Regions from separate parts of the Homo sapiens genome. Here region 1 is linked to region 2. The links come from fine-mapping of genetic effects on gene expression. Tissue or cell type: fibroblasts. Region 2 holds a variant in brackets; the other region holds the start of a gene. All regions are shown on one strand. Distances are from middle to middle. Region 1 holds the start of TSHZ2 (teashirt zinc finger homeobox 2). Region 2 overlaps TSHZ2 (teashirt zinc finger homeobox 2).

What was found. PIP is the estimated chance that this variant, and not a neighbour inherited with it, causes the effect.
Region 1: it holds the start of TSHZ2, and the variant in region 2 is fine-mapped to the expression of TSHZ2 in fibroblasts (GTEx, PIP 0.93).

Annotation. Positions count from the first base shown.
Region 1 is chr20:52,965,091-52,977,882 of GRCh38, reverse strand. TSHZ2 (teashirt zinc finger homeobox 2) reads right to left here and starts at 5,525. Exons shown (of 3, transcript NM_173485.6): 1 at 4,550-5,525. The coding sequence starts at 4,589.
Region 2 is chr20:53,075,183-53,087,974 of GRCh38, reverse strand. The region is part of intron 1 of TSHZ2 (teashirt zinc finger homeobox 2); the gene reads right to left. Among named protein-coding and RNA genes, the nearest start is that of TSHZ2, 110 kb to the right of the region's middle. The variant C/T (reference allele first, on the strand shown) is at 7,481.

The DNA.
Region 1 (12,792 bases), 110 kb after region 2:
AACTCTTAAGCCTCAGAGAAGATTTTCATTGTCAAGAAGTTTCCCGGAGCCCCTGCTCCCTTACAGAGTTTCCACTAAACTCTCTGTCACTTGTAATCTGCTGATTAGGGTTAACGTATTGTGTCCTGATATGGCAGATTAAAAATGAAATCAATAAATGCCTAAAACAAATGGGCTTTTGAGATGTCCTATTCAGTCTGAGTCTTTAAGGGTGAGGTGAGAGGTGGAAGAAGGAAATCAAGACGGGGGTGGGAAAAGGACCACTTAAGCAATCAATTTCCGTCCAAAATGTTGTGTGGACCAAGCGATTTCAAGGAATCTATCCTTCCTTTTTCAGATATCTGCCTTAAGTAACAAGAATGGCCAAAAGAGTTTGTGCTGCTAAGACCCTTTGGACTTTATTGTGTCCATGCGTGTGTGTGTGTGTGTGTGTGTGTGTGTGTGTGTGTGTGTGTGTGTGTATTTTTCCATTCATTTGTTAAAAACATACTTTTGGGCAAGTGAAGGAATCCATCGCGTGAGATATTTAAATATTCAAGATGTGAACTTGTCTTTCTGAAGGATGTTTAAACAAAGTGAGGGAGGAAGGGTCCCAAATCTACCCGATTCCTAGTCTCTTGAAAGCTGTCCCACTTGACAGTAAATTAAAGGTAAACTTCGCCCTGAGCTGCCTGCCCCCTCCCTCCATCCTGTTGGTTGAGATTTCTGGGACCTCACCGGTTAATTCAGAGTCATCACTATCAAGAGGTGGAAAAGAGATCTCTGAGGTCATTTCTGCTCTGTTGCAGTGTTCAGAGTTGTCCCTGTTGACTATGTTTCCCATGTAAATAACCTGTGTTATTAAGGTGCAAATTGCAACTTTTAAGTAATGATTGCTAATAGTCTAATGTTTACTGCCACACAAGGACATTCATGAAAACAAAATCTGCATTATTCATCTCCATATTAAATAAACAAAATAAATTGAGGGAGCTGTTCTTTCTTGCAAGACTCTTCAGATCTGGGTGATCAGAAAGCCTTTAAGAGTCAGCAAGAGGGAAACATCTAATTGCTTTGGGTGGGCAGGGGCAGAATCCTATAACTTACATATATAAAAGATATATTCACAAGATGTGCTCACAAAAGATTGTGTGTTCTATTGCAATTGGCTGTCATTAATATAAAAGCAGTTCAGTATGGTGAAATAAAATACGTATTATTTATGTGCGCGCACAGAGGCTGAGATAGGCTGTAGAAAATCAAGAGTTAGATTCTAAGTCTACAATTTTAAATTTTTAACCACTCTGCATCCTGCAAAATGCAAACAAATCAAAACACCGTTCTGTTTTACTTTCCTGCCATTTTCTCTATCTCCCTTGAAATGCATAGAAGGGGAAAATGCTGGTACTGAATCCTGCAATATTTTCAGGTAATAGTGGATGTATTTTAATGGTGAGTGAAATATACATCCAAGGAAGCAAGCATGCACACACAACACAAACCCCTGGGGTACTGTAGGCTGCTTTCTCAACTTTTTTTTTCTTGCCCTAAGTAATAGTATGGTGGAATAGCATAGCTTAAGAAAGCCAGGAAGAATGACATTTCAGAGGGAAATACTCTGATTTAGCTGTTTCCTTAAAGAGAATTGTCCCCTCACATCCCTTCCCCCTGAAGGGGGAGGAACATAACAAATAAAGACTAAAATTCCTCATCACTTACAATATCATCTTGTTTATTCTGTTTAGATACCTGCTTTAGTAGAAAGTTCTGTAATTGATTCCTTGAAACATGGAACTTATAACTAATAATACAAAGGAATCAAATTGCCTGGAACAGTTCTTGGGAAAAAGAGCGCTCCGGGAGAGCCTCAGCTCGGATCCACTCACAGGCTTTTTCTATCTCCCATTATTCATTAATCAAGCTAGAAATCAAGCTTTCAACATCAGTCCTTGGGTGTAATTACTTACAGTTGTGCATTGTGTTTAATTTTAAGCAGTGATAAAAGTTAGTATGGCCATAATCTTAGAACCCACCTTCTCCCCTTCCCTGGATGTTAACTGACTACAGAACCCCAAAGTGGCTAACTTTACTTGTGAATAACCACTTCAGCTGAAATAGAGTAGGGCATTGATGACCTTAGATGAACAGAAGAAACACTGCATGAAAAACTGTCTCCTCTATTAATATGTGAGCAAATAAATAAGGTAAGAGGGCCCTCACTGTGTACGAAATGAATCATCCTTTTTCAGCTTAAAAAGGGTTTCCGCTTCTGGTGAAAATAATAAGAATCATACAAAACAAACATACAAAGACAGTAGGAATATAATAGGCCAGAAAACTGAAACTATAGTTACAAGTTTCTAACACACACACACACACACCCCCACACACCCACACACACCAATAAACTAGCCAGCACCAACAGACACAGCTTAATGAAAAGGACCTGATTTAAATAATGTGATACAGTGTTATGTTACGTACACCTGGATCCTTATCGATCGTAGGATAATTATAATCAAAGTCGAGCAATTCTGAGCAATGCACTTTTTGTAATGAGCTTACTAAAGGAGACATGTCCAGTCATTCTGGTAATTTAAATTACTGCCTAGTTGTTGATAGTCTTTACCGGAACAACCAGAAAAAAAAAAAGAGTAATTTTCAGGGCAGTATCACTTCTTGCTGGACCGTAGCCCAGGGTTCTCTTTCGGGACAACAATAAGGACGTTATCTCTAATAATGTAGCTACACTTAAACTTATGTTGCCAGAACTAGATGCAGCAGGCTCACTGTTCCTGGGTCTCAAAGGCCATTGAACACATCCACACGCTGTCAGATTGCAAAGCAGCCTAAGTTTTAGGAAATCAGTGAGTTAAATGCAGAAAGAGACAACGGTAGGAAAGAGACATTGTTTTCCAAAGAAGTAACTAGAGTTGAAAAAAGAAAACCTCACTGATGAGGCAAGTTCCAAATACGTACCTCACTAAAAATATTTTAATTATTTTGCTTTTAGGGAAACGATCAGAAAATATATGAATCCACGCTTTATCAATATTTCTGCATGCCACTTGAACCAACTTACAAATAGGGAAGCAATTCTGTGCTCAGAAGGAATGATAATTGTGGATATTTTGAAACACTCAGGCGAGGAAGGAGGATGAGCTTGGTGGTTCAACACATTCAGACAAGGGATGCCCACTCTCCTCAGATTCCTAACTAACTTTGGATTTGTTCTAAGGGTGACTTTGCAAAGTTTATGAAAGTGTTCCACCAAACTTCTCCCTATGTTTTGCTAGAGTTGGAACAGAATGAAATGTGGAGGTGGGTCTGCAGAAGACCAGTCTTACCTAATGTTGCCTAAATCAAGAGGGTAAAGACAGAGAGAGAGGAAAAAACAACTAAACTTAAGCTTTTTGCGAAAGCCCTGATTCAACTAAAGGACACAAAGAAATAAAAACGCCCACATTAAAAGCCAAACAAGATAATAATTGTGCATGTCTGGCTCTGAATATAGAGGGCAAGGTTTGCGTCACTGGCACTCTGAGTTACCATGGTGAGTGATTTATTGATATATATCAAGAATGAATAGATCAAAGGCAGCGAGATGACAGGTGATCAATCAAATGTCAAATCAAAACTAGCAATCAAGTGGAAAGCTGATTTTTCAGTGGGTGGGTCTGGCAGAAGAAAAATGAACTTTCATATTACATTTCCGAGAAACAAAACCCCAGCATACTATTAAAAAAGCAATTAAGCAACCCAAAAGAAAAAAAAACTTTAGAAGGTCTATTGTACTGATCCATTAACCTGTTCTTATCTTTTTTAGGGGGCAGTAAGGATTCAGATGGGATAGTTTTTACAGTACGAATCATTTCACAAAGTTTGCAACTCTCTAGGCAAAGAAAATCCAGAGCTGTTTAAATTTCTATGGGGAATTTCCCCCCTACAACCCTTTTTGGTTTTTTTAAAGAATAGGGAAATTGTTAATTACATTTCCAAATATGGATCCTTTTAGAAAATATATGCAAAGAGTCATCCATTTCCTGGGGGCATTTTGTCCACCTTGGTGATCAACGCTAAACTCCTATTGCTGGCCCCAAAGCCTGCCTGCAGCCCGAGTGTTAGGTATGCCTCACACTTCAGCGCCCCAAGCCCCAGTGAGAGGAGACGCTATCCCTGGAGGCCAAAAGCCACTGGCACTGACCACGCAGAGGGATGCAGGGGTGGAGGGGCTGTCTCCCTACTCCGCACCCCAAATCCTCAATCCGACTTTGGCCCGAGAGGCAAGAAACAGACTGGAAGAAAGTTAGGGGTGGGGTAGAGGGTGGAGGAAAGAAAGTTTAAGGAGGAAAGGCTTGGTGGGATAGCTCACCCCAACCCAACCGGAGCTTGGAAGGGGAGGATTTGGGAGACCAGAGAAGGCGAGAGAGGACGGGGTTATTAGAAGGGCACCCGGCGCAAACTCCCCCGAAAGCTTAAGTGGGTGGTGCCCCCGGGCACCCAGGGGCAAGGAGGGCGGGCGAGGAGCTCGGCGCACAGGGCAGCCCCGAAGCGGAGCCGTTTCTCTTACCTGCCGCCCGCTTGGGTGCCTGCTGTTTTCTCCTCGGCATCCTCTACTTCGCTCCAGTCCCACTTCTGGCGCCCCAGCCCCGAGCCGCGCGCTGGGGCCCGCTGTCTCTCTGGCCTCTCTGGGTCTCCTCCGCCTCTTGCCCGGTGGCTCCTAGGACGTCACTCGGCCTCTGTCCCCCTGACGATCCCCCCTGCAACTCCTCCACCACGGGCCAGAGACCCCCCTCTCTGGGTGGCAGACACGGGTGGCTTGTGCCGGCTGCTTTGAAGTAGAGGTTGGTTCTGCCTTGTTTGTTTGTTTGTTTATTTTGAATTTTTTTTCCTCTCTCTTTTTTGTTTTTGCTTTTGGAATTTTTTTGGTTTTGTTTTTGCGGTTTTTTTTTTTTTTGGTGACTGTTGAGACACTTGATTTCTTTATTAAACATCCAAGCCCGGGTTCGGATGGAAGGGACGAGGGGCGCACACGCGCCACAGGCACACTCGCGCGTAAAGATAAGGAAAAAAAAAAGGCAATCCTGGGAAGGTAGTGGGTTTCTTCTTTTTCTTCTTCTTCCTTCTCCTCTTTCCCTCCTCCTCCTCCTCCTCCACCTCCTCCTCCACCTCCTCCTTCTTTTCTTCCTCCTCCTCCTCCTCCTCCTCGCCGATCTCTATGGCGGATTCGTGCCGGGGGGAGAGCGATCACTCACTGTAGGTTTGTGGCTGCTGTCAGATCCCCGTCTGTGAGTGATATGCGAGAGGACAGGAGCGGGTTTTGGAAAGACAGAAAATCTGGAATTCACTCACTCACACACACACACAGACACACACACAGACACTCACACACGCACTCACACGCGCACGCACCCCCGCTTCCTCGCACACACACACTCACACCCCCCACATATGCACACACACACAAACACACACACACACCCTCGCACACACACACAAGACAGGGCGAGGCGATGCCAGCAAACATCGATCCCGCTGAACAAACTGAACATTAACAAACTCCTCCTCCTCCTCCTCTCCCCGCGACCTGATGACAGGGAGAAATTTACTCCCCAGCCGCAGAGCGCCAGGCAGCGGGAGCCTATTAAAGGGACAGCGTCCCGCAGGGGAGAGGGGCTGGGGGCGGGGGCCCCGGCGCGCCGGCCCAGGCCCCTCTGTGCGCCCTCTCCGCCGGGGCGAGGGCGTGCCCACCGGGCGCGGGGACACCCCTCCGGGAGGCGGAAGGGGCGGGGGCGGGAGGAAAGGAGGTGAGGAGGGAAGGGGTGCGGGAGAAAAGGAGGCAGTGTGATGATGGCTGAACTCTGAAGCTGGGAGGCTGTGGAGGGAGATTCAGGGGGGCCAGGTTGGCTGACCAGCAGGGACCATGCACAATCTTAGGAGAGGGAGAACTTAGGTTTGCTCGGGGCTGGGAAGGGGGAGGGGACCTTATCCAGTGAGGATCTCCATCCTGTAAGTCTTAACCTGCCCCCACCAAAATGTGCTCCCCACGACCCCTTCAATTTAGTGCCCCTGTCCCTCCCACTTTCTCGCTAATCAATGGGTGGTCACAAAAACAAAAATCTCCCTTCTGTCTACTTTAAGGTCTAATCATATACTCCTCTTTTTGTTTCCTTTGAAGAATGTTTATTGAGCATCTACTATGTGCCTATTCTGGAGACACAGAGGCCACAGAGAAAGGGAAGGTGGTGGCCATGTTGGTATTTATATTCTAATGGGGGAGTGCAGACAAGTGCCCCCCAGCTATCCAATCTTTGCTTAAATGTCCCCTTTTCCCAAAGGTCTACCTCACCTAAAATACACACACACACACACACACACACTCCCTGCCCCATTTCTCCATTTTGTTATTCCCCAGTGAGCTGATCAGTGAGTGTCACACAGGTTATAGACAGTTTTCTATTCTGTTGATTGTACAAGTTCCCCTCTTGAATGTAAGCTCCAATGGAAGGAAGGATTTTTGCCTCTTTGTTCTCTTATATCCCCAAGTGCTGGCAAAGCACAAGACATATAATAAGTGCCCAGTAAAATATTTGTTGAATGAATGAAAAGTAAGCAAGCAAATAAACAGGATACTTTGAGTGATTCGCTCCATGAAGACGTTAAGCTGAGTGCTGTAATAGTGTCTAAAAGGGGGTGGGTGGCTCTAGATTCAATGTAGGATATGGCATTTGAGCACAGAGAGATTGAAACAAACATGTGATTATTGAGTTCTGCTATCGGCCAGGCACCTTTTGAGGTGTTGGGGGCAAGTCTGTGAACAAGGTGAACCTAGACCATGCCCTCAAGGAGTGCTCCTTCCAGTGAGAGGGCAAAGCAACTGAGGGCATTTGATGCAGGCTGGGACTAGAGGTGTTTTTTTTTGCTTTATTATTTTTTTTATTTCAATAGCTTTAGGGGTAAAAGTGGTTTTCGGTTACATGGATGAATTGCATAGTGGTGAAGTCTGGGATTTCAGTGCACCCGTCACCCGAGTAGTGTACATCGTACCCAATAGGTAGTTTTTCAGTCCTCACCCCCTTCCCATACTCCTCGCTTCTGAGTTGCCAATGTCCATGATATCTTTCCATATGCCTTTGCATACCCATGCATTAGCTCCCACTTATAACCAAGAACGTGTGGTATTTGGTTTTTGATCCTGAGTTACTTCACCTAGAATAACGGCCTCCAGCTCTATCCAAGTTGCTGTGAAAGACATTATTTTGTTCTTTACTATGGCTGAGTAGTATTCCACGGTGTATATATATGTGTGTATATACACACAAACACACATATATATACACAAATACACATATATAGATATATATACCACATTTTCTTTATACAATAATCAGTTGATGGGCACTTATGTTGATTTCATATCTTTGCAATTGTGCTGCAATGAATATACGCCTGCAGGTGTCTTTTTGACATAATGACTTTTTTTCCTTTGGGTAGATACCCAGTAGTGGGGTTGCTGGATCAAATGGTAGATCTACTTTTAATTCCTTGAGAAATCTCCATACTGTTCTCCATAGAGATTGTACTAATTTACATTCACACCAGCAGTGGGTATAAAAGTTCCCTTTTCCCCACATCCACACCAATATCTGTTGTTTTTTGACTTTTTAATAATGGCCATTCTGGCTAGGGTAAGGTGCTATCTCACTGCAGTTTTAATTTGCATTTACCCTGTGATTATTGATGTTCAGCATTTTTTCATTATGTTTGTTGGCCATTTGTCTGTCTCCTTTTGAGAAATGTCTATTCACGTCATTTGTCCACTTTTTAATGAGATTATTTTTTTTTTTTTCTTGCTGATTTGTTTGAGTTCCTTGTAGATTCTGGATATTAGTCCTTTGTCAGATGCATAGTTTGCAAATATTTTCACCCATTCTGTAGGTTGTCTGTTTGCTCTGATGATTGTTTCTTTTACTGGGTAGAATTTTTTTAGTTTAATTAGGCTCCATTTATTTATTTATTTTTGTTGCATTTGCTTTTGAGGGCTTAGTCAGAAATTCTTTGCCTAAGCCAATGTCCAGAAGAGTTTTTCTTAGGTTTTCTTCTAGAATATTTATGGTGTCAGGTCTTATGTTTAAAGTCTTTAATCCATCTTGAGTTAATTTTTATATATGGTCAGAGACAGGGATAGTTTCATTCTTCTACATGTGGCTATCCAATTTTCCCAGCACCATTTATTGAATAGGGCAGGGGTCCCGAACCCCTGAACCATGGACTAGCACCTGTCCATGGCCTGTAAGGAACTAGGTGGCACAGAAGGAGGTGAGCAGGTAGGGGTAAGCAAGCATTACCATTTGAGCTCTGTCACTTCAGCAGGGGCATTAGACTCTCATGGGAGCTCTAACTCTATTGTAAACTGTGAATGCAAGGGATCTAGGTTGCACACTCCTTATGAGAATCTAATGCCTAATGATCTGAGGTCAAACAGTTTTATCCCAAAACCATCCACCCTGCCCTGGTCCATGGAAAAATTGTCTTCCATGAAACCAGTCCCTGGTGAAAAAAAGGCTGGAGAACACTGGAATAGACCTTTTCCCAACTTATGTTTTTATATGCTTTGCCAAAGATCAGTTGGTTATAAGTATGTGGTGAAGGTGTTCTTAGGAGGAGTGATTACCCTGAACTTGGCGAAAGGAAGGATGGTTACCAGGCGGGGCTTCAAGGGAAGAGGTAAGTCAAAGCTGAGTCTTACATATAACAAACGGGTAGGCAAAAAGGGAACTCTGATACTGAAGCCCTTGTATCAAAAAGACACCGTGTAAGGCTTCTGCTTCCGCATTAAAATCTCCTGAGGCCCTTGTTAAGATGCACGTACCTGGTCCTTGCCCTAGAGCAAGATTTTCTAACCCAGGCCCTATTGACATTGAAGGTCTGATAATTCTTTGTTAGGAGGGGCTGTCCTGTTCAATGTAGGATGTTTAGGAACATCCCAGGCTTCCGTTGTGACAATGCAAACTGTCTCCAGATACTGCCCAATGTCCCCTGGTAGGCAAAATCGTCCTTGGCTTAGCATCACTACCCTAGATCTTCTGAATCAGAAAATTCCGGATGAAGGCTTAGAGATCTGTATTTTGAACATGTAACCCATCCATCCCTACAAGTGAAACTTCTGCTCACACCAGTTAGAGAACATCTGCCCCCAAATTGTTTGTTCTTTTGTAATCAGACATACTCAATGTTGTTAACTATAAAGCCAAGTCAGGCTTAGATATTAATGTAACTTAAGGGTTCAAGGGGTGATGTTGTAATGGTGGCCGTCGCGATGGGGTTTCACCTGTGCCCACTCCTCAATACTCCTCCTCCCACCATGATCACCCCCACCCCACCACCCCAGCAAGGCCTGCCCAGTCTGATCTGGGACACTTCCCACTACAACCCACCCACCTGCTTATGGGGAACTACCAGTTCTGACTAGTTCCATGAATATTTTTCTTAACAGTTCTTTGGGCTGTATGACACTCAACTTTCCCTATCCTACTTGTCAGCCACAAAGTGTTGTTGTGATTGTTTGCAAAGTGCTGTTTAATCATTTTTAACATCCTCACGCACTTCTCCATCTCACATGTGTGGTACAAGTTGTTAACTCACTTGCCCTAAATCACCCGAGAAGCCTCCACCCATGACCAACTCCACCCAGTCCCAGCCTAGTCCTTAGGCAACTGAGGCAGAAAAAGCCCGATTTCATAGTTGGCAATGTCAACAAAAAAGGTATTAATTCTAATTACCCAATACATTTTTACAGAGCACTGTGCAAGGGACCATAGCCTATTGAATAAAACCTCACAGCCTTGCAGCCAAGGAACCACCGTTGTGGGATTAGGGGATACTTGTTTATAGGATCAGGAGGCCTGAACAGAAGAGGAGTGAAGCTGCAGCAACCTCACCATGAAGCCGCCATGCTCTGTGCAAGCCCCATGCCTGCTGGTGTGGTGTTTGTGTTACATTCAGCCAGTTATTTCACAGACATCTACTGCGCCTGTTAGGTCTACCAGGCCTTGCCCCAAGCACAGCAGATTTTGGAATGCATAAGGTAGGATCATCACCTTCAAAAAGCTTTTGGATGTTATAATAACATCCCAAAGACTGGGAACTAAAAAAGAGGGAATTTGGAAGCTGGGTCCAGCCTTGGAGACAATCAGGAAGGAAATGGGCAGGAGAAGATGACTTTGGATGACAGAATTTCCCTGAGGTTCTATCCAATATCCTTCTCAGAATTTTACATCCGCTCTCTCCTTGTTCTCAATAGCTGGTTATATAATGTGGGGGACTTGTAACAATTCTGCAGTACCTACTTTCTGGCTGGCTATTAACACATTGTTGGATCTACATTTCTGAAATGTTCTTTTATTAATTTGTATTTTTTCATACCGTTACTAATAGTTAGCTTAGTTATCCACGAAAATGGTTTTGGCTTACACCAGCGGGATGTATAACACTATGTACCCAGTGCTGTAGACAAGATGTTAAATAATATTGAATCACATAGTAAGAAAGTTATTCCCTTTCAATTCTCTTTCAATCTGATAAAATAACCATTTTGTGCTCGTGTCTCTTTTATACCTAATGCTTGCTAACTTCTATTTTTCAACAAAGATACCACGGATCTTAGGCTCAGAAGCTTGGGAGGGACAAGAGTATCTAGCTAGACTTTTAAAAATGTTTTGTTTTCAAGCATATGAAAAAAGCCTCATCATCACTGATCATTAGAGAAATGCAAATCAAAACCACAATGAGATAACATCACATGCCAGAATGGTGATTATTAAAAAGTCAAGAAACAATAGATGCTGGCAAGGCTGTGAAGAAATAAGAAAGCTTTTACACTGTTGGTGGGAGTGTAAATTAGTTCAACCATTGTGGAAGATAGTGTGGTGGTTCCTGAAGGATCTAGAATCAGAAATACCATTTGACCCAGCAATCCCATTACTGGGTATATTCCCAAAGGATTATAAATCATTCTAAAATAAAGACACATGCACATGTAGGTTTATTGCAGCAATATTTACAATAGCAAAGACTTGGAATTAACCCAAATGCCCATCAATGATAGACTGGATAAAGAAAATGTGGCACATATACACCATGGAATACTATGCAGCCATAAAAAAGAATGAGATCATGTCCTTTTCCAGGACATGGATTAAGCTGGGAGCCATAATTCTCAGCAAACTAACACAGGAACAGAAAACCAAACACTATGTGTTCTCACTCATAAGACTCATAAGTGGGAACTGAACAATGTGAACACATGGACACAAGGAGAGGAACAACACACACCATGGCCTGTTGGGGTGGGGAGCAAGGGGAGGGAGAGCATTAGGACCAATACCTAATGCATGAGGGGCTTAAAAACCTAGATGACGGGTTGATAGGTGCAGCAAACCACCATGGTACGTGTATACCTTTGTAACAAACCTGCACATTCTGCACATGTATCCCGGAACTTAAAGTAAAAGAAAAAAAAGAATTAAAAAAATGTTTTGTTTTTAATGCTTTCGATTTAGAGTTACCTTCTGTTTTTAAAGATCCTGCTCTCCTTGCGTAAGAGCAATCTAATATTTAAACCCATTAAGTGGAATTTTAAAAATAAGTATATTAAAGGAACAATAGAGAGTAAAAAGTGATTCAGGTGGGATGTGGAAATGGCAAAATGTGAAAGAGATGGTGTGGGCATTGCTAGAATTGGAAAATACTGTGCTAAACCATAGACTCTGGCACTTGGGGAAACTTCTTATAAGAGCTGGTGTCTTGGGATGAGGCTATGTTTAAGTCTCCAGGGAACTTCGCTTCCTAGGATCCAGCACTCGAACTTTGGGATGTGTAAGGGCATGAACTGATTGGAATGACTCAACCCTACCTTCCAGAACAGTTGTTCACATGCTGGCTGAACATCAGAATCACCTGGGGATTTTTTGTTTTTCAAGATAAAGAACCCCAGGCCACATCCTAGACTTACTAAATTAGATTCCAGGGTGGTGTCAGAAAAATCTCAAAATCTTAAAGGTCCCAGGTGATTCTGGTAAGGCACTAGGCATAGGAAACTTTTCTGTACAAAAGTTGAATTTTATAACAAGTGAATAGAGTTTGCAGAGTTTCTTGCATGCAAGGAACAGAAAAGGCATTTGTTCTTGGATTCACTCAAGTCTTCTAATCACACTGTAGAAGCCTATCAATCCTCCCCCTCAAAGCACACAACATATCGAATTTGTTGTTAGTTCACCTGTTTTACCACTGATGCAATTAAACAAATATTTGCCAAGCACCTACCTTGTGCAGGGCAGTGCTCTAATTACTGGGCTTTGGGGTAGCCTTGTGATACCTGAGCACAGAGAGAATGTCTCAGTCACCATAGTGCCTCCTGTATAGGTTTCAGGACCTTTACTCTTATTCTTTCCTTCTACAAAGTTCCTCCTCCAGATCTATCTTTCCTCTTCACTCTAAACTCAAATGTACCTTTGTTGCCTACCCTATCTGTCCCACTCTTTCTCTGTATTTTCTTCATGTATTTTTGTGTTTTTCCTGTCTGTCTTCCCAAATTCACATTTATATCCTCAGGTTGAGCACCGTATTGGTGCTTATTAAAAATCTGTGGAAGGATTGAACATGAAGCTGAGGATACATGCAAGGAAGGTCTTTTAAAAATACCTTTGGCGCAATAGGGTTTTCTTTTCTTTTCTTTTGTGTTTAGAGACAAGATCTTGTTTGCTCCCAGGCTGGAGTGCCGTGACTCGATCATAGCTCACTGCAGCCTCAAGC
Region 2 (12,792 bases):
AGGTAGAGAGAACTGCTTGGGAAAAGGTTGGAGGAGAGAGTTATTTAGTTTCTCTCCCTGGAGCATTAGTCCAAAAATCACCAAGGTGGCCAATTACCAATATGGCAGATACAAAGTCTCTGGTCAAGCCAAATGCCAAAAGAATTTACCTGTCCTTGGATTTAATCCAACTAGAAGAAGCAGAGGTACTACACAGCCAACACGTACCATCATTTAAGTCCCTGCCAATGGCCGAATCAATAGACATACTACTTTTCTCTAAATAGCCTGAAGACACCACTAAAATACACAAGCAAATCAAAAAAGAAAGTCTTTTCCAAGAGTTTTACCAAGAACTGTAAGACCTTGCCAGTCTGTTTCTGATCCTTCTTTTAACAGACACAAATCAGAAGCATGATTATGAGTAACGCTGTGCACCCAGTGAAGAGGAAGAGACACCCACGAGGCAATTAAAACTTTGGTCCATGGTCTTTCAAAAGTGAAGACTGGGGGCTTGCATCAAGAAGTCTGAGTTCTCATGAGCCGACTGTCAGAGCTAAAACATCAGAACTTTGGGCCAAGGATCGAAAATGTGTAATGCATAAATGTCTGTAGAAACTGCCAAGGGATTTGTGTGAGCTGACCAACTGTGCAAACAATTATCTGTGTTTAGAAAGCTCTACAGTAACGGAAACGTGAAGATTTGGCCTTTGGAGTTGAAGAATCTCCTGGAAATATCCCTTGGAGTAACTACTTGTTTACTTGGAAAAGCATCTGATCCTGGGCAAAAAAATTTCCCTTTTTTGGTTGACCTCAATTCTTCTCTCCATTCATGACAGGCTGTTGCTCAAGAAAGGGCAAAAGGTCTAGCCATGTGAGAATCTGGTATTATGAATTCTCCTCCTTCAGATCATCACATGGCTTGTTTTCTCACTTCCTATGAGTCTACTCATAGGTTCCTTTCTCCGCAGAGCCATGCTTGGCCATCCTATCTAGCATGAAACCCTCCACCCCATCCCCTGACTCTTCCTCTACCATCTTCTTGGCTTTGTTTTCTCCTTAGCATTTCACGTCTAACATGCCAGCTAGCTAATATATTCATTTTTTATTTTCCTTCTCCCTTACCTGAATTCTTAGGCAAGAACATTTGATTGGTTCATTGCTATATCCCCAGCTCCTGGAAGGAGAACTGGCATTAAAAGATAAGTCTTAAATGCAGACACTCCTTATGGTGCATGCCATCTCAGCAACCACAGAACTGTGCAAAGGGAAGACACGGTTTCAGGACACGAGTTCCAGTTAACAGAGGCAAATTGAGGTGGCCTATAAATAATTGTTAGGATGAACAGAGCTGTCCATACTTCTATTTTATGGTTAAGGCCACCAGGGAGAGGTTGTTATTTGCCCTATATACATCATTCCTGACAGGAGGTTTCTCCAACAATCACCTTCCAAAGAACCAATGTGGTAGACACACTTGGGGATGATCTATTCAAGCCATACCTTCCCTTCCACAAGAACTACTTGCTCCTCAAGCCCTAACAGACTCCACCTCAATCAGAGACAAATGGACTGAAAGTAGGCTACCCACAGAGAGCCAAGCTTTTGGTAGAGATTAGCCCAAAAATCTGAATGGAGATATGGCGATCTTGAGAGAAGGAAAGTCTGAAGGAAGGTGCAAAACACATATACCTTTTGGTTCATAAAGATACCTGGCTCTACCCTCTCCGACATCCCACTCAACCCCACCTTTGCATCAATTCCCTGGTCTATGCCAGCGCCCTCCTTAGACATTTTTGTTGTTACTGTTTAGTTGTTATTGCTTAGTTTCCTTTGAAGAGAGTTATTCTTCCTTACAACTAAAGAAACCTTGATTGAGATGCACAGTGGGCAGCTGGCACCCACCCCACCACTACTGAGCTACCAAGAGACCAGAAGACACGGCCTCCATGCAAAGAGATTGGTGCAGATGGAGAAGTCAGGATGAGGAACAGCTGGAGACCATGCCACATGCACAATAACCCTAGGCCTTGAGAGGCACAGGTGAGGTTGAGCGCAGCTGGAGAGGAGAACTTTGAGAAGCCCTCATGAAGGTCTGCCTGGCTTGTGGTTTAATGCTTACGCCTGAACGCCACCACTGAGCCCTGCGTGGGATTACTTCAGGGGGAATTTGAGGAAGTTGAACTCAGTAATGGGCATGACTTTGCAGCTAGGCACCTTTCTGGCCCTGAATCCTGGGGGCATAGTGTTTAAGATCATGAGGTCTAGACCACCTGGGTTTAAATCTGAACTTTGTAATTTATCCTGGGGAAAGTCCTTGCCCTCTTTCAGGGGCCTTCATTTCCTTATGTGTAAAATGGGAATAATAAAATAACACCTAGTGTACAATGCATACAAAGTAATTGACAAGGGGCCTGGCATGTAAATAAGTGTTCAATAAATAACAGCATTGAACACCTGAGTTTGTCTTACTTTAGGAACCAAGCCACTACCACTATGCAGTTTCTCCTCGGTGTGTTTCCCCACTGACAGCCTGGTCATATTTCAGATTCTCCAAGACATGCAAAAGTTCTACCTAAAGTGAAATATCGGTCTTTCTTTCTTTCTCTCTCTCTCTCTCTCTTTCTTTTTGAGATGGAGTTTCATTGTGTTGCCCAGGCTGGAGTTCAGTGGCGCGATCTTGGCTCACTGCGACCTCCGCCCCCTGGATTCAAGCGATTCTCCAGCCTCAGCCTCCCGAGTAGCTGGGATTATAGGTGCCCGCCACCACGCCCGGCTGATTTTTTTGTATTTTTAGTAGAGATGAGGTTTCACCATATTCGCCTGGCTGGTCTCGAAGTCAGGAGACTTCAGGTGATCCACCCATCTCAGCCTCCCAAAGTATTGGGATTACAGTCGTGAGCCACCACACCCAGCATCTATTTTTCTTATTTAACAAATGCACCATGAGCTAGCACAGGACTAAATTCTTCATGTATATGATAAAGCAGGTATTATTATCCCATTTTGGAGGAAAGCAAACTGAGACCCAGTGAGGTTACATGGCTTGAAATAGGCCTAACAATCTAATAAATGATTATTAATGTCTACACAGAAAAAACCCAAGCATCTTACTTTCTCAGTAAATTGCTTTCAGAAAAGCTAAATGTTAGTTCAAGCCTTGGTTTTTGTCTTGGTGAAAGGCACTTGCATAAAAAAGTATGAACTGAGCTTGACTACTGGTTTTAAAATACAGAATAGGTGCTTAACCAAAGAAGGAAGGAAGGAAGGGAGGGAGGGAAGGAGAGAGGGAGAGAGGGAGAGAGGGAGGGAGGGAGGGAGGGAGAGAAGGAGAGAAGGAGAGAGGGAGAGAGGGAGGGAGGGAGGGAGGAAGTTTGGTTGGAAAGGAAGAAAAACAGAGGAAAGGATGAATAAATTTTTAAAAATTGAACATGAAATTAAGAGTCAATCTTGCTCAAAAATTCCCACCTATAATCAGAATGCTCCTCACTAACCAAACTGATAGAAGTTTAGTCAACAAATTTGTCATTTGTCCTCTGTATGGATTACAGCATCATTCAGTTTTAGCTAGTGACATATTGTTGGGCTGAATCTTAAATAATGCCCAAACAGTGAAAAATCTTAGTGGAAAAAACCCCGACAAAACTAAGTCCACTTGAATATCCAAATTGCTTCAAACACTCTTTAATACAATATAATTCCAACACAAAAATAATTCCAAGGGTTCTTCAAAATTCATTATAAAACAATTTAACCGATATATAAACACTTGTTCTTGATTCCAGGACCTGAAATTAACCAGAATAAGTGGAATGAAAAATCTTTTGAGTAATTGCTGTGTATTTTGTCGTTCTTTACTTTTCCTGGGTTATAAAATTTTTGTAGTTATGGAAGTGATCTTATTACTTATGACAAATTTGATTAGTGGCTATTCTGTGGCAAACATTATGAAAAATACCTTAGCTATGTTATCTTATTTAATTTTTAATAATATTTTAGTTTTTTTAAATCAGAGAAACTTAAACAATAATAAAGAAGGCTTATGATTTTACCCAAGATAAATCAAATGATGTTAAAAGACAGAAGTAAAAAAAATGCAATAAATGCTTACAGTTAAAAAAATTCACATAGAAAGGGAAGAAAACTTATAAAAAAAATAGACATTCCCTCTTCAAGTTATCAATGCAAACTGGAAATTTTTATAATTCCTTCCAGTAAAAACAGAAACAGAATTCCATACTATCTCATTTGCTTTTAGTCTTTATAACGGTGAAGCAAATATTACTGTCATGCCCAATTTATAGATGAGGAAACTGATACTTCAATTAGTTAAATAATTTGCAGAATGTCTCACAGCTGGTAACAATGACAGACTAAGGTTTGAGCCTGAATAAACAGAAACAGGATTTGAACCAGTCTGTCTGACTTCGAAAACTGTTTGTTCTTTTTATCAGGTAACCTGATCATATCTGATAGTCCTTTTTTGGCTTTCCGATGTGATCAGCAATATGAAAGAAGTAGATATGGCGAAAAAAGGATCACCGACCCTGGCTATACGGTTAAAACCGATAGAAATGTGAGGCTTCAGAATATATTTTTGCAGACCTATTAATTTGGAAAGCTATTTACAAGCCTCAAGTCAGGCCTACAAGCAATGTCTTATTTACCTCCCTAAGGAAGGTCACATTTTGGGGTCCTATAAGTAAAAATAACATTGATAGCTACATTTAAGGGAGAATTGGAAAACTCAAAGGCATGGTGTGATTCATTGGTTGGACGATTGCACAGATGCCTAACTGTAAATGCACACACATAAAGAATTCTAATAAATCTAATAAATGATTAGCTGTATACCTACATCAAAATTTGGACTTAGATGGGACACCTATTCAATCTGTTCATTTTATACACAGAAGGTTAGGTTGCAAGTAGTGGTCATTTTGTCAGCCAAAGACAGAGCTGGGGGAGTCCTCTGGCCTCCAAAACCCCTCTGCTGAGGACTCTTTCTGAGTTACCACCACTAAGTGTCAAGGCTCTGGCCTTGCCTCCATCTAACCAGGAGCACCCTGTTTCTAATATTCCCATCAGAGAAGAATTTGAAATTTGCTGAAACTATCCAGTACAACATTTAACAAGATTTGGCATGGACAGTTTCTCAGGAATTACTGCTTTAAATAGCCAACACCTTCCCATAACGGACTTTGTGATTTCATAGATGAAAGCACAGGTTTTTCACCCCCACATAAAACCAACTCTTGCCAGATAGATTCTTTCACATTTAGGTGGCTTATCATTTCCAACTTTGTTTAGACAGCTTTGCAGCTGCCATTTTGGAGAAAGGGCATCGGTGAGGGAATCACCAGGGCACAGAAGTCCTTTGAAAGGCTTTAAAAATGAGTTCATCCAGCTAAGACAATGTTTTCCAAAAATAATGTACTTTGGCTTAAAATGTAAAATTAACATCAAATGAAGATCTCTTAAGAAGCTCTAAAATGGAGATGACTATCTTAGTAGCGTGTAGTAGGTACTTGATGCAATCAGCGTGTTCTACACAGGTAATTACTTTTACTACTAATGGTGCCTCCCACTCAGTGAGAAAGATAAGAGGCTCCAACTCTACTTAATCACGAGGCTTCTTTATTATGGCTCGACCACCTACTGAGTAAAACAATTCGCTTGCTCTATTCAGCAACTCTCACAAATGAGAAAAATTTATTAACATGTGAGCAGAATGGGACTTATTTAGTATGTACAAAGGGGATTACCACATGATTTAAAAATACATAGACCATTCAAAGAGTTGTGTGGGTCATCTTGAGTGAAGGCCTTTCTGGAAAATGTTTATTTTTGTAATGTTGAAGCTGGTTTGCAACAACTGTCCAGTTCAATGTGCTTTGAAGCTATTTAGAAGTGTCTGTTAAGAGAAGGGAGTGACGAAATTACACAAATACAAAGTCAGTGACGGGTGACCTTGGGTAAGTTATTCATCTCCTCTGGGCTATTTTCATATTTGTGGAATGGGAATAAGAACAAAAATATCTGACTGCACTCCAGCCTGGGCGACAGAGTAAGACTCTGTCTCAGAAAAAAAAAAAAAAGAATAAACATATTTGTTTCATACTTACGTACAGTCAGTCTAATATAAGGTGTTTGTGTGTTTCTAAAAAGGACCACAGTCTTCTAAATTTCACAATAAAACCCACAGAGCTTACGGGGAAAATGGGTTTGGGAGAACAAAGCTCCTGTCAGTAACATATAATAAAAAAGCAGGAACCTAATACAAACAGTAGCACCGTTTTATGCAGGTTAAATGGTGAAAAAATTTATAAACACCGTGATAAATAAGTATTTTACCTTAATAAAGAGCCGTGGAAGTGGGTGTTGGAAGTGGTGGGAGGAGTGTTACCTGGAATCCTACAGCGTTGTAACAGCAATTGTGCATGGGTGGGTGGGGCTTGTGGCACACCAGCTGAAGGAAGTGAGTAGATGTTTGAGGTATGTGTGTGTTTGCTTTTGTGTATTTCTACATGGCCTGGTTCAGCTGGGTGCAGTTTTCTGTGTTCAGTGTTTCTCAAGGACGAAGTCACACGTACACAAATGCAAACTCAGTGTCAAGCTGAAAGTGTATCCACCATTTTGGAGCAAAATTATGTTTTAAGGAAGCATTGGCTGGGCACAGTGGTTCAGGCTTGTAATTTCAGGACTTTGGGAGTTTGAGGCAGGATCACTTGATGCCAGGAGTTTAAGACCAGCCTGGGTAACATAGCGAGACCTCATCTTTACAAAATAAAAAATAATAAGATAATAAAAAAAACAGGTGGGTGTGGTGGCACATGCCTGTAGTCCCAGATACTTGGGAGGCTGAGGCAGGAGGACTGCTTGAGCCCAGCAGTTTGAGGCTACAGTGAGCTATGATCATGCCACTGCACTCTAACTTGGGTGACAGAGAAAGATCCTGTCTCTAAAAAACATGTTTTAAAAGCAGTATTATAGCAGAACCGACAGCATTATGAAGATTAAAGAAGCTAATGTTTGTCACTACACAGTGGGACCTTAAGAAGTGTTATTTTTGCCTTGATCTCCGTGGCTGCCTCAATTAAACTGGTGTCAAATTCAATCCCAAACTCATAGCTGGTGGACTTAGGCTGTTCATCTCTTTGTTATTCTGGATCAACAAAAATGATACGACTCTAAAGCAGGTGTCCCCAGCCCCTGGGCCGCGGGCCGGTACAGGTCCGTGGCCTGTTAGGAACCAGGCTGAATAGCAGGAGGTGAGCGGTGGGCGAGCGAACATTACCACCTAAACTCTGCCTTCTGTCAGCAGGGGCATTCGATTTTCATAGGAGTACGAACCCTGTTGTGAACTGTGTATGCGAGGGATCTAGGTTGCACATTCCTTAGGAGACTCTAACTAATGCCTGATCATCCGAGGTGAAAGACTTTCATCCTGAAACCATCCATCTCCCCTACCTTTGTCCGTGGAAAATTGTCTTCCATGAAG[C/T]TGATCCCTGGTGCCAAAAAGGTTGGGGACTGTTGCTCTAAAGAACTGACTTGCAATGTTAATAGAGGATTCAATGCATTTGTTAAATGTGTACACTTGTACCTTTGTCCTTGCCTACAACAATATCATTTCCTGTAAAGAGATTAAGCACAAAGCCAGGAAATACCATCCTCTTCCTTAAGACCAAGTTGAAAACTACTCTGTAAGAAGCAGAAATTTAGTGGCCCTTGGGAGGAAAAAATGGTGTTACTATTCACAATGTTTGATTAGCACCAGGGAAGGGCAGACCAATTTCTCTCTAGAGCCTTTTAGTAAGAATTAATGGGAAACACATACATAAGGCTCTCTATGCGTCTGGTACCATAAGAGCTCTGGATATATTAACTCGTTTAAGATTCGAATCATTCTACATAATTGCTTTTCGGGTCTTGATGTTTTTTATTAAATTAGGTAAGCTGAGCTAGTCTGGAAATTCAGTCAGATTTCCAGTTAGCTAGGCAACAAGTTTTCATTGGGCAACAACAACTTGAAGAGACTGAATAACCTAAGTTGAACTTTGGAGTCAGACCAATCAGAATCACGGCTTCACTCATAAGCTATGTGTATTAGGACATATAATTCAACTTTTGTGGACCTCAGGATCTCTTCTGCAAAAAAAAAGAAAAAAAAAACAGAAAAAGAAAAAGGTTACTAGTAGCTATAGTAGCTATCTGCTGGTGCTTTTGTGAAAATTAAATGAGATAAAGGGTATAGAGTGGCTAGTGTGATAGAGGGCACAGTCAGCACTCAATACATTTATTTATAGAGTTATTATCGTTTTATTACCAGTGTGGGGCCAGCTGATATTCACTTCGTTAGGCATATTGGCACATAATCCAGCTGTTTGAAATAGTGCCTGGCTCAGACCAAAGCCTTGGAATTTGGCCTCTAAAGACTTGAAGTCTCTGCATTCCTGATTTTTTCCTTTCTGTATTCCCAATACACAGGATTATTCTGTCTCTGTAGCGCTAAGATGCCTTAAACATAGCAGCGATTTGAGAGGGTTTTGCACTTGCTCTGCAGATTAACCTCTTCCAGTGTGAACATGTCACTGTCTACGTTAACCACTGTCTGGCAACCCGCATGAGATATGCACACTGTTGTCTCTATTTCTCATCTCTCATTTATTTTTCAACCCACCCAGTCTGGCTTCTCCTCCCATTGGTCTACTGTGAATGCTTTTACTAAGTTCACCCAGGAGCTCAGCCAAGTTAAGTCCAGTGTGCATTTTTTCAACTTGCACCTTACTGACTTCTACTAAAAGTAGTTAGTAGAGCTAACCACTTTTTCCCTCTTGAGACACTCTCTTCTCTATTACTTCCTATTTTGACAATCACCCTATGTTGATAGTCTTCCACGCTCTCCAAAAGCTCATGTTTTGCAGACTTTTTTCCTTTTCAATGTTGGATATTGGCCTTTCTCAGGGCTTAGTCTTTCTTCCTCAATAATCTCACCCTAAACATGCTCGTCCACTGCCAGGGGTTCATTATGTTCTATTTGCTAGGACTTTGACATTGATGTAATTGGGTATTATGTTGAAATCCAGATAAGTACCCAATGGTCTTCTCCCTAACTCTTGAACATCAAACTTAACAGTTCCCAAATGGAATTACGATTTTTACCTTTACCAAAATTTTCCCCCACTCCATTATTCCCAGCGTACCTCTAAATTTACCATATAGCCAAGCTCTATTGATTTTTACCACCAAATCTATCTCAATCCACCCACTTCTCTACATCTCTATTGCTGCCAGCCTAGTCTAAGCCACCATCTTTTTGTCACCTGATTATCACAGTAACTACCTCACTGCTGTCCTTGAATCCATCCTCATTCTACTCCAATACATCCAGCAAAATGCAGCCAGGGTATTTTTCAAAGATAATTTATGATGTAATCCTGTGACTAAAAACCTATAATAATTCCTCCATGCTCAAAGACCACATCGAAAAGTGTTAACATGATCCCAAATATGCCAGAGTCCCTCTAATCCAGTTTTATCTTGTACCATTTCATGTCTTTTTTCAAGAAATATTTAACGAGTATTTATTAGGTGTCAGGCATACTGTAGTTCTTGGACTTGGCAAATCTTCTACAATGAACAAGTATTACTCAAAATTTTAATTTAAAAAATGTCTAGGTGTTCATTCAAAGGAATAGAAAAAAAGCTGTCATGAAATGGTTAAACCCACATTATTTTCTCTATTCTGAGTAATCCCCCTAAGTGCAAAACTCTTTACTCATATGTTTTTAGATTTTGGGTTTAGATCTTTGACTTCAGGAAATCTCCCTTTCTTAGCGTGAACACACAGATTTTGCAGTCTAAAGCTGGATTCGTGATTGATAGAAGCTCTTCGCATGTCATTCTCCCTCCTTTCCGATAGATTCACTCTCAGAAACAGTCATGCAAACTCTGCCTACGCATTCAGTAAATTGGAGAAGTTGACATTCTAAACATCTAAAAGGTAAGGATTTGGGTAACAGAAACTCACCCACATTGTACACAGGGCACATTTCAATTTTCTGCTGCAGTACTCAGAGGAGATTAGAGTGTTCACAAAGTTAAGAAATTTCAGAACAGACAGGGAGAGTGAGCAGCCAATTTCCATTGCATCTTTGCAAGTGACTATCAGGAAATTTGTTATTAATTTTGTCCAAGGTGATGTAATCCAAACATTAGTCACCAACCTCCTTTTCAGCGATAACGAATGATCTATTAATTGCCACACTGACTGGCCTTTTGTCAGGCTTTGTTTTTCTTTGACCTTTGTGCAGTATTTGATACCTCCACTACCCTGTCTGTGTGACTCAGGCTTGGCTGCTGTGTATGATGTGCCTAAACCTCCTGGGTCGTCCTCCCTTCTGTTTGCCTTTCTATCTCTGGATCATCCAGAATTGCTCCTAATATGTGGACAGGTCCCAAGACTCTGGTCTTGTCAATCTTTTCTCCCCTTGCTAACTCTCCCTTCTCAAACAAAACTAATTCACTCTCACAGCTCCAACTGTACAGATGATCCCCAGAGTATTATCTTTTTTTTTTTTTTTTTGAGGTAGAGTCTTACTCTGTCATCCTGGCTGCAGTGCAGTGGCACAATCTTGGCTCACTGCAACCTTTGCCTCCAGGGTTCAAATGGTTCTCCTGCCTCAGCCTCCCAAGTAGCTGGGATTACACGCACACGCCACCATGCTATTTTTTTTTTGTATTTTAGTAGATACAGGGTTTCACCATGTTGCCCAGGCTGGTATCGAACTCCTGACCTCAAGTGACCCACCCGCCTTAGCCTCCCAAAGTGCTGGGATTACAGGCATGGGCCATCGTGCCTGGCCTCCAGAGCATTATCTTTACCTCTCATCTCTGCTAAGCTCATAGACTTGTGTCTTCAGCACCTGAGAGACTACTTCCACTTGGTCACACTTTTCCTTTCCCCTCTTTTGCTTTTCCATCAGAATTTACCTCTCCACTCTCTCTAAGCCCGAGTTCTCTTAGGAATACCATGATTCTTCCGGATACAAAAATGCAAAACTCTGAAACTGCACATCAGGGTCTTGTTTATAACTCTTTCTTTAATGACTTCCCATCACTCTCTGAATTGCGTCCAAAATGAATTATGCATCTGCAAGTCCCTTTTATAATTTAACTCTTTCCAGCCTTCCAGGATCCTCCATCTAGTCCTTCATCAGGTTGTGTTTTCCTAAGTTCATTGAATGTGCAACATCTTCCTGCCTCATGTTGTCAGCAAATAAGGTACCTGTGCCTAAAATGTTCTCCACTCCATGGCCTGCTCCACCCTCACCTCCCACCATCAACCTAATTTAGTGCTGTTTTTTTCTTTTTTAGCTGTGAGCTTTGACATCACTCATCTCAGTAAGCCCTCAGTGATCTTCAGACTGGGTCAGGACCTCCGCATCGCTTGTATGGAATCTGGCCCAGTCCTTTCATAGTATTAAGCACAACTGAAACGTGCAGTCTGATACTGGTTTCCCCACTAGATTGTGAGCTCTGTGAAGGCAAGGACTTGCTCATCTACTTTCATCCAGTGCCTGGCACACAATAGGGCCTCAGTAAGTTGAACAAATGAATGAATGAATTAAATCACACTTTGGTGACTCCATTATCAGCCATGTGCAGTTTGCCAGCAAATTCAGCAATTTTTCTGGTTAATATCACTCCACCCTTCCTTCCTGTCTCCATCATCCTTTCTGCTGTCATCCAGTCCAGGCTCTCATCATCTCTTGCTTGGATCACTGTAAGAGCTCAACTGTTTTCTTCAGATCTCTCTTTGCTGTGATTAGTTTTGTAAACTACTGCCAGATTAATCCTTCAAAAAATTCTTTGTGTTATTCCTTTGCTCAGTAATCCTTGACCACTCTTTTCTGTCTACAGAACAAAGTGAAAAGTGTCCTAGGGTCTCAGAGTCGAAAGGAACCTTGAAGATCATCTGGTGTAACCACCTCTCGCTAGAAGTGAGGAAAGCGAGGTCAAGAGGGGTTGGGTGACTTGCCAAAGAACAAGGAATCAGTGTTTCAGTCTCCAGACTGAATGCAGTTGAGAATGTGCCACTTAAAACACATTCAGTCTCTCCCATTGCATGTAAAGTACAGCCCAAACTCCTTCCCATGGTCCCCAGTCCCAGCAGAACCTGGCTCCCACCGATGGTGGCTGACTTGTCCCAGTGTGCCGTGGACTCTCCCAGTTTAAAAACTGAAAATCCATCACCCCAAGAACTCCCTCAGTCTCCTAGCAGCCTGGGCTGGTGATCACCCTACTCCTTCCTCCACCTTCATTCTCATATCTTATCACGCTCTGCCTTGTTTAGTTCTCACCTGTCCTGCTGCCTTCTGTTTCTAGAACATACTATCCAAACTCATTTTCATCTAGGGCTTTTGCACTTGCTTCTCCCCTCTCTGTGTTTGCCAAGGTTAGTATCAGAAACTAACCTCCCTGATTTGTCGCTCCTTTTATAGCTTGGCATGCAGTGCTTTCATAATCTGACTTCAAATCCCCTTCGTGTCCCTATTTTCCTACTACCATTCCAGTAGAGTCACTTATGTGCTCAAAAACAGTAAGCATTTTAATGATGAAAATATCTGTTGAATGAAAAACCCAAGATCTTTCTTAATCCCATTGCACAGGCTATTAAAATGGTAAAAAGAAAGATCCTTTGCACAGAGCAGTCCATGAGCTTCACAGCAAAGAAGGCAATAATGAAAAAGTCTGAGACTACCTGTCTCTTTTTTATTTATTTGCATTACTCAGTAGATTCCAATCTTACTC